2 linked regions of the Homo sapiens genome follow. Each later gene encodes a partner of the first gene's protein in a complex. Each region holds a gene or a part of one and is shown in the gene's direction. Other genes may lie near its edges. The genes, in order: NUP160 and NUP98.

Region 1 (2,697 bases):
ATATATATATATATATATATATATATATATATATATATATATATATATATATATTTTTTTTTTTTTTTAACTGAGTTTTGCTCTGTTGCCCAAGCTGGAGTGCAGTGATGCAGCCTCCACTTACTCCCTCACTGCAGCCTCCGCCTCCCGGGTTCAAGTGATTCTCCTGCCTCAGCCTCCTGAGTAGCTGGGATTACAGGCACCTGCCACCACATCCAGCTAATTTTTTAATATTTTTGGTAGAGATGGGGCTTCACCATGTTGGCCAGGCTGGTCTCGGAACTCCTAACCTCAAGTGATCCACCCACCTCGGCCTCCCAAAGTGCTGGGATTACCCATGTGAGCCACCATGCCCGGCCTAGGCATTTCTTTTTATTATCATGCTATGTAAGGTGAGAATCTGAGAGTAAATTGAACTATATGTTAGTGTATTTAACCTTTACTATCTGTAGTTATACAACTAAATATTGACACTCTAGGAATCTCTAGTCTCCTGTTTATAAAATAGGAATTTCATCTTTCTCTATCAAAATAATATGGCATTAGTTAGGATTCAGTGGAGAGAGATAAACAAAATGGTATTGTGTGTGTGCCGGGACTGTGTTAAGTCTCTACAAGCATTTTTTTATTTAATCCTTATAGCAGCCTTATGAAGGAATGTTTTAATTTTCTATTTTTTAACCCATGAGGGAACAGGCTCAGAGGTTATCACAGGCTCATACAGATGGCAAATATAATAGAAGAGCCAGGTCTAAATAGGTGTAGTTAACTACAGCTTCAACCCTCATGAAATCAGCCAGGTGCAATAGCTCACACCTGTAATCCTAGCACTTTCGGAGGTCAAGGTGTGAGGATCGTTTAAACCCAGAGGTTAAGACCAGCCTTGGCAACATAGTGAGAACCTTTATCTACAAAAAATAGAAAAAAATTAGCTGGTCATGGTGGTGCGTGCCTATAGTCCCAGCTATGTGGGAAGCTGAGGTGGGAGGATCACATGAGCCCTGGAGGTTGAGGGTACAGTGAGCTATGATCATGCCACTACACTCCAGCCTGAGTGACAGAGTGAGACCCTGTCTGAAAAAAAAAAGAAAGTTGACATGAAATTATTTTTTATTTTTATTTTTTTATTTTTTCCAAGACGGAGTCTCGCTCTGTCGCCCAGGCTTGAGTGCAGTGGCATGATCTCGGCTCACTGTAACCTCCGCCTCCCGGGTTCAAGCAATTCTTCAGCCTCAGCCTCCCGAGCAGCTGGGACTACATCTGTGCCACCACACCTGGCTAATTTTTGTATTTTTAGTAGAGACGGGGTTTCACCATATTGGCCAGGCTGGTCTCGAACTCCTGACCTTGTGATCCGCCCACCTCGGCCTCCCAAAACGTTGGAATTACAGGCCCAGCCGACATGAATTTTTAAATATATTTAACCGAAAAAAATGACAAGTTTCCCAGTTGGAGAAAAGAGGGTTCCCATTGTGTGCATGCACATGTATACACACAGTTTCTTGTGGTTGGGGGAAAAAATGCATTTTATTTTGCCGGGCACAGTGGCTCACTTTCGGAGGCCAAGGCAGGTGGATCACTTGAGGCCAGGAGTTTGAGACCAGCCTGTCCAACATGGTGAAACCCCATCTCTACTAAAAATAAACATAAAAAAATTAGCTAGGCATGGTGGTGCACATCTGTAGTCCAGCTACTCAAGAGGCTGAGGCACAAGAATTGCTTGAGCCCAGGAGGCGGAGGTTGCAGTGAGCTGAGATTGTGCCACTGCACTCAGCCTGGGCGACAGAACAAGACCATCTCAAAAAAAAAAAAAAAAAGGGTATTTTATTCTACAGAGTCCTATGAAAGCAACTACCCAGAAGAAATGGTACACTTTGCAGACTGTTTTCAAATAAACATTTTCCTTTTAGTTTCCACTGTCCGCAACAGCCCCAATGGTGTGGCTTCCATACTCCTCTATTGATCAGCTTCTCCAAGCTCTGGGAGAGAACAGTGCCAACAGTCACAACATCGCAGTAAGTCAGCCCTTTCATGAGACGTCTTGTGTAAGCCCCTGCACTAGCAGTTACACCTTACAGCTTGATCTTCAGTTCTCCGGGATTAGAAAGGGAAGACAAAAGCCTATTTTTGGCCCTTAACAAACTGCCCAGTCCCTTTATAGATAAGGCAGAGGATCTAAGTAACAGGATCAAGAAAACATAATGAGGAACTGTGTAAGTGTTAATTATACAGAGACAAATGGCAAGCAGTCGGTCCATCCTTTAAAGCTTTTAATTTGGTAGGGCAGACCCTACAAGGTAAACAGGTACTTGAAATACAGCAATGATAGGCCGGGCGCAGTGGCTCACGCCTATAATCCCAGCACTTTGGAAGGCTGAGACGGGCAGATTACCTGAGAGGTCAGGAGTTCGAGATCAGCTTTGCCAACATGGTGAAATTCCATCTCTACTAAATATACCAAAACTAGCCAGGCATGGTGGCGGGCACCTGTAATCCCAGCTACTCGGGAGGCTGAGGCAGGAGAATCGCTTGAACCCAGGAGGCGGAGGTTCCAGTGAGCCAAGATTGCACCACCGCACTCCATCCTAGACAGCAGAGTGAGACTCCATTCCCCCACCCTGAAAAAGAAAGAAATACAGTGTGATAAATTATCACTGTCCTGAGGGAAGTTGGCATATATAACAACATTTCTCAGGA
Region 2 (3,831 bases), about 44 Mb from region 1:
AAATAAAAAGCTGATTAAGCTTTTCTCAGAGTATTTTATGAGATACCTTTTATAGTCCGGGATGTTAATGGGTGTCCTTTGAAAATAATGTTCTGTGGTTAAATCTGGAAAAACACGAGGTTAAGCAGAGTTTAATAGGCTATTTACTGTAAGTTTTAGACTCTTTGATGTATCATATGTATGTTCTTCAAACCTATTTGACCATGAAGCTTTTCACACACACACACACACACACACACACACACACTCACACACCCCTTCTCCTAGGAATCATGTTTGGTAGAAAAGTAGTTTGGAAAATTCTTCATTCTGATATATTTTCTCTTTATATGATGATTTAGTTGCTGATTATTTCAGGTTATTTTTTTTTCTGTTTTTTTTTTTTTTTTTGTCACAGGTATTATTCTCACTAAGGTTGGTTACTATACTATTCCATCTATGGATGACCTTGCTAAAATTACCAATGAAAAAGGAGAGTGCATTGTCTCTGATTTCACTATTGGTCGGAAAGGTAAGTGTGAGTTTAGCACTTAGTGATTAAGCCAGAGAGTTGCACCTTATTTTTGTAATTAGGGGAAGCTTTTGATAGCTGAATCTTCATTTTCCTACATTTGGGCCCACCTTGGCCTGAATCTTAAATACTTTGATTGATAAGTAACAAAACAAGAAAGACTGGAACCATGTAAATTTTTTTATTTTTATTTATTTTATTTTTTCTGTTGAGATGGGGTCTTGCTACATTGCCTGGCAGATCTCAACTCCTGGGGTCAAGCATTTCTCCTGCCTCAGCCTCCTGAGAAGCACAGAACCATATAATATTCTTTGGGCTTAGGTATACCTGTTTGGTGCTAGTAACTATTTGGGTCATTTTAATTTTCTGTAATTAAAGAAAATACTGGAAATACCAAGAACTTCTGAGAAAATTGAATAATAGGCAAGAGATGTATAACACTTAGCATGAACTTCATGTTATTATTACTGATAATTTTCTTGTGGGAAATGCCACTGTGCTATATTGTATTAAAAAGAGCTCAGGCATTTTAACCCATATGCCAGGCCAAGTGCGAAGGTTTGTTTATATAGCGTCATTATAGATAAATGGGAAGAGATTTAAGAAGGTTGTTTTGAGGCTAATGGGAGTTTTATAAAAATGCAGATGTTAGGCCTGTCGCAGTGACTCACACCTGTAATTCTAGCGCTTTGGGAGGCTGAGGTGAGAGGATCACTTGAGCTCAGGAGTTCTAGACCAGCCTGGGCAACATAGTGAGACCTCACCTTTACCAAAAGTAAAGAAAATGAGCCAGGCCTGATGATATGTGCTTGTAGTCTCAGCTACTTGGGAGGGTGAGGTGGGAGGATTGTTTCAGTTTAGGAGGTTCAGGCTGCAGTGAGACAGGACCACTGCACTTCAGTCTGGTCAACAGAACAAGACCTTGCCAAAAAAAAAAAGAAAAGAAAAGAAAAGAAAAATGCAGATTTTAAATCAGATAACAGTGTAATTGAAGTTACTCTCCCTAAGTCCCCATTCTTACCAGTCTAGGAATTGCTGAATTATTTAAAATACTAATACTTAAAACTGCTTTCTCCTTGTGATTGTTTAATCACTATAGTTGTAAAGTAGGTATTTGCCTTCATACAGAATGAATTTTTAACTATTTGCTCTGATTTATAGGTTATGGTTCAATCTATTTTGAAGGAGATGTGAATTTGACAAATCTAAATTTGGATGATATTGTGCATATCCGGAGGAAAGAAGTAGTTGTCTACTTAGATGATAACCAAAAACCACCTGTGGGTGAAGGGCTAAATAGGTAAGAGTTTATGTACATACAGAAAATTATCAGCTAAATCACAATTTTTTTTTCTGTAAACATAAATGTGTTTAGATGTATGCTTCTGTAGCTTGCTTTCCTTACTATAGAGTACATTTATTGTCTCTACTTTGATTTAAAAGTATAAATGGCAAAGAAATGCTATACTGTGATTTTGAACTCCTTTTCCCTGATTTTATTTTTTAATTCATTTTTTTACATTCCTTGGATTCGATTCTATTCTATTTTATTTCATTTCATTTCATTTTACTATTATTATTTTTTTTTTTTGAGATGGAGTTTTGCTCTTGTTGCCCAGGCTGGAGCGCAGTGGAATGATGTCAGTTCACTGCAACCTCCGACTCCCGGGTTCAAGCGATTCTCCTGCCTCAGCCTCCCAAGTAGCTGGGATTGTAGGCGCCCGCCACCATGCCTGGCTAATTTTTGTATTTTTAGTAGAGACAGAGTTTCACCATGTTGGCCAGGCTGGTCTTGAGCTCCTGATTTCAAGTGATCCTCCCACCTCAGCCTCCCAAAGTGCTGGGATTACAGGTGTGAGCCACGCTGCCCAGCCTCCCTGATTTTATTGGGTCCAACTGCTAATTTCAAAAACTCTTTTTAATAGTATTTTGCTTTATTCCTGTTTCTGCTGTGGCTATACTTAACTCTCTATTTTAGTGTGAGATCCTAGCTTCTAATATCTTAGTCAAGTGAAAGGGCTGTAGTGAAAATTATTTATCTTCATAACCTACCAACCCTGAATCAGGAAGAAATAGAAAATCTGAGCAGATCAATCGATCCTTTCCTTTCCTTTCCCCTTCCGCTTCTTTTCTTTTCCCTTTCTCTTCTTTCTTTCTTTTCTTTCTTTCTTCTTTTGAGACAGAGTTTCACTCCTTTGCCCAAGCTGGAGTGCAGTGGTATAGTCTCAGCTTACTGCAACCTCTGCCCCCTGGGTTCAAGCGATTCTCCTGCCTCAGCCTCCAGAGTAGCTGGGATTATAGGTGCCCGCCACCATGCTCAGCTAATTTTTGTATTTTTAGTAGAGACAGGGTTTTGCCATGTTGACCAGGCTGGTCTTGAACTCCTGACCTCAGGTGATCTGCCCACTTCGCCCTCCCAAAGTGCTGGGATTACAAGCATGAGCCACTGTGCCGGGCCAATAATTAGTAAAGAGATTGACTCAGTAATCACAAACTTGTCAAAAAAGAAAAACCTAGAATCAGATGGCCTCATTGGTGAATTCTACTAAGCGTTTAAAGAAATAACACCAGTCCTACTCAGACTCTTCCAAAAAATTGAAGAGAAGGGAATACTTTCACACTCATTCTATGAGGCAAGCGTTACCTTATTCAGTAACCAAAGACACTGCAAGGAAAGAAAACTACAGACCACTTGATGAGTATATTGATGAAAAAGTCATCAACAGAGCCCTAGGAAGCAGAATTTAACAGCGTATTGAAAGGATTACACATCATGGCCAAAAGATTTATTCTGGAATGCATGGATGGCTTAACATACAAAAGTCAGTGAAACATACCACTTTAACAAGATAAAGGAATATACCACATCATCATCATCATCATAATACAGAAAAAGTATTTACCAAAATCCAACACTCTTTCATAATAAAGGCACTCAAATACAGAAGGCTTTTCCTGTGAGACAAGGCAACACAAGGATGCCTGCTTTTGCCACTTTTCCCAAATATACTACTGCAAGTCCTGGTCAGAGCAATTAGGCAAGAAAAATAAAAGTTAATACAGTTTTGAAAAGTAGTAAAATTATCTCTGTTCTTTGATGACATCTTGTGTAGAAATCCCTAAAGATGCCACACAAAAAAACTTACTAGTTATAAACAAATTCAACAAAGTTACAGGATACAGAATCAACATGGAAAAATCAGTTGCACTGCTATACACTAACAACAAAAATTAAGAAAACATTTCATATATATAGTAGCATCAAAAAGAATAAAATATACACAAATAAACTTAACCAGGGAGGTAAATGACTTGTTTAT

Evidence for each region.
Region 2: NUP160 (region 1) and NUP98 share a complex: the UniProt entries of both Homo sapiens proteins name them as parts of the nuclear pore complex.

The regions. Positions count from the first base shown.
Region 1 is NC_000011.10:47,779,661-47,782,357, reverse strand, and holds part of NUP160 (nuclear pore complex protein Nup160), read left to right. Parts: intron 1-1,910; coding exon 1,911-2,015; intron 2,016-2,697. UniProt on the Homo sapiens protein: Functions as a component of the nuclear pore complex (NPC). Involved in poly(A)+ RNA transport.
Region 2 is NC_000011.10:3,717,392-3,721,222, reverse strand, and holds part of NUP98 (nuclear pore complex protein Nup98-Nup96 isoform 1 precursor), read left to right. Parts: intron 1-397; coding exon 398-511; intron 512-1,672; coding exon 1,673-1,811; intron 1,812-3,831. UniProt on the Homo sapiens protein: Plays a role in the nuclear pore complex (NPC) assembly and/or maintenance. NUP98 and NUP96 are involved in the bidirectional transport across the NPC. May anchor NUP153 and TPR to the NPC.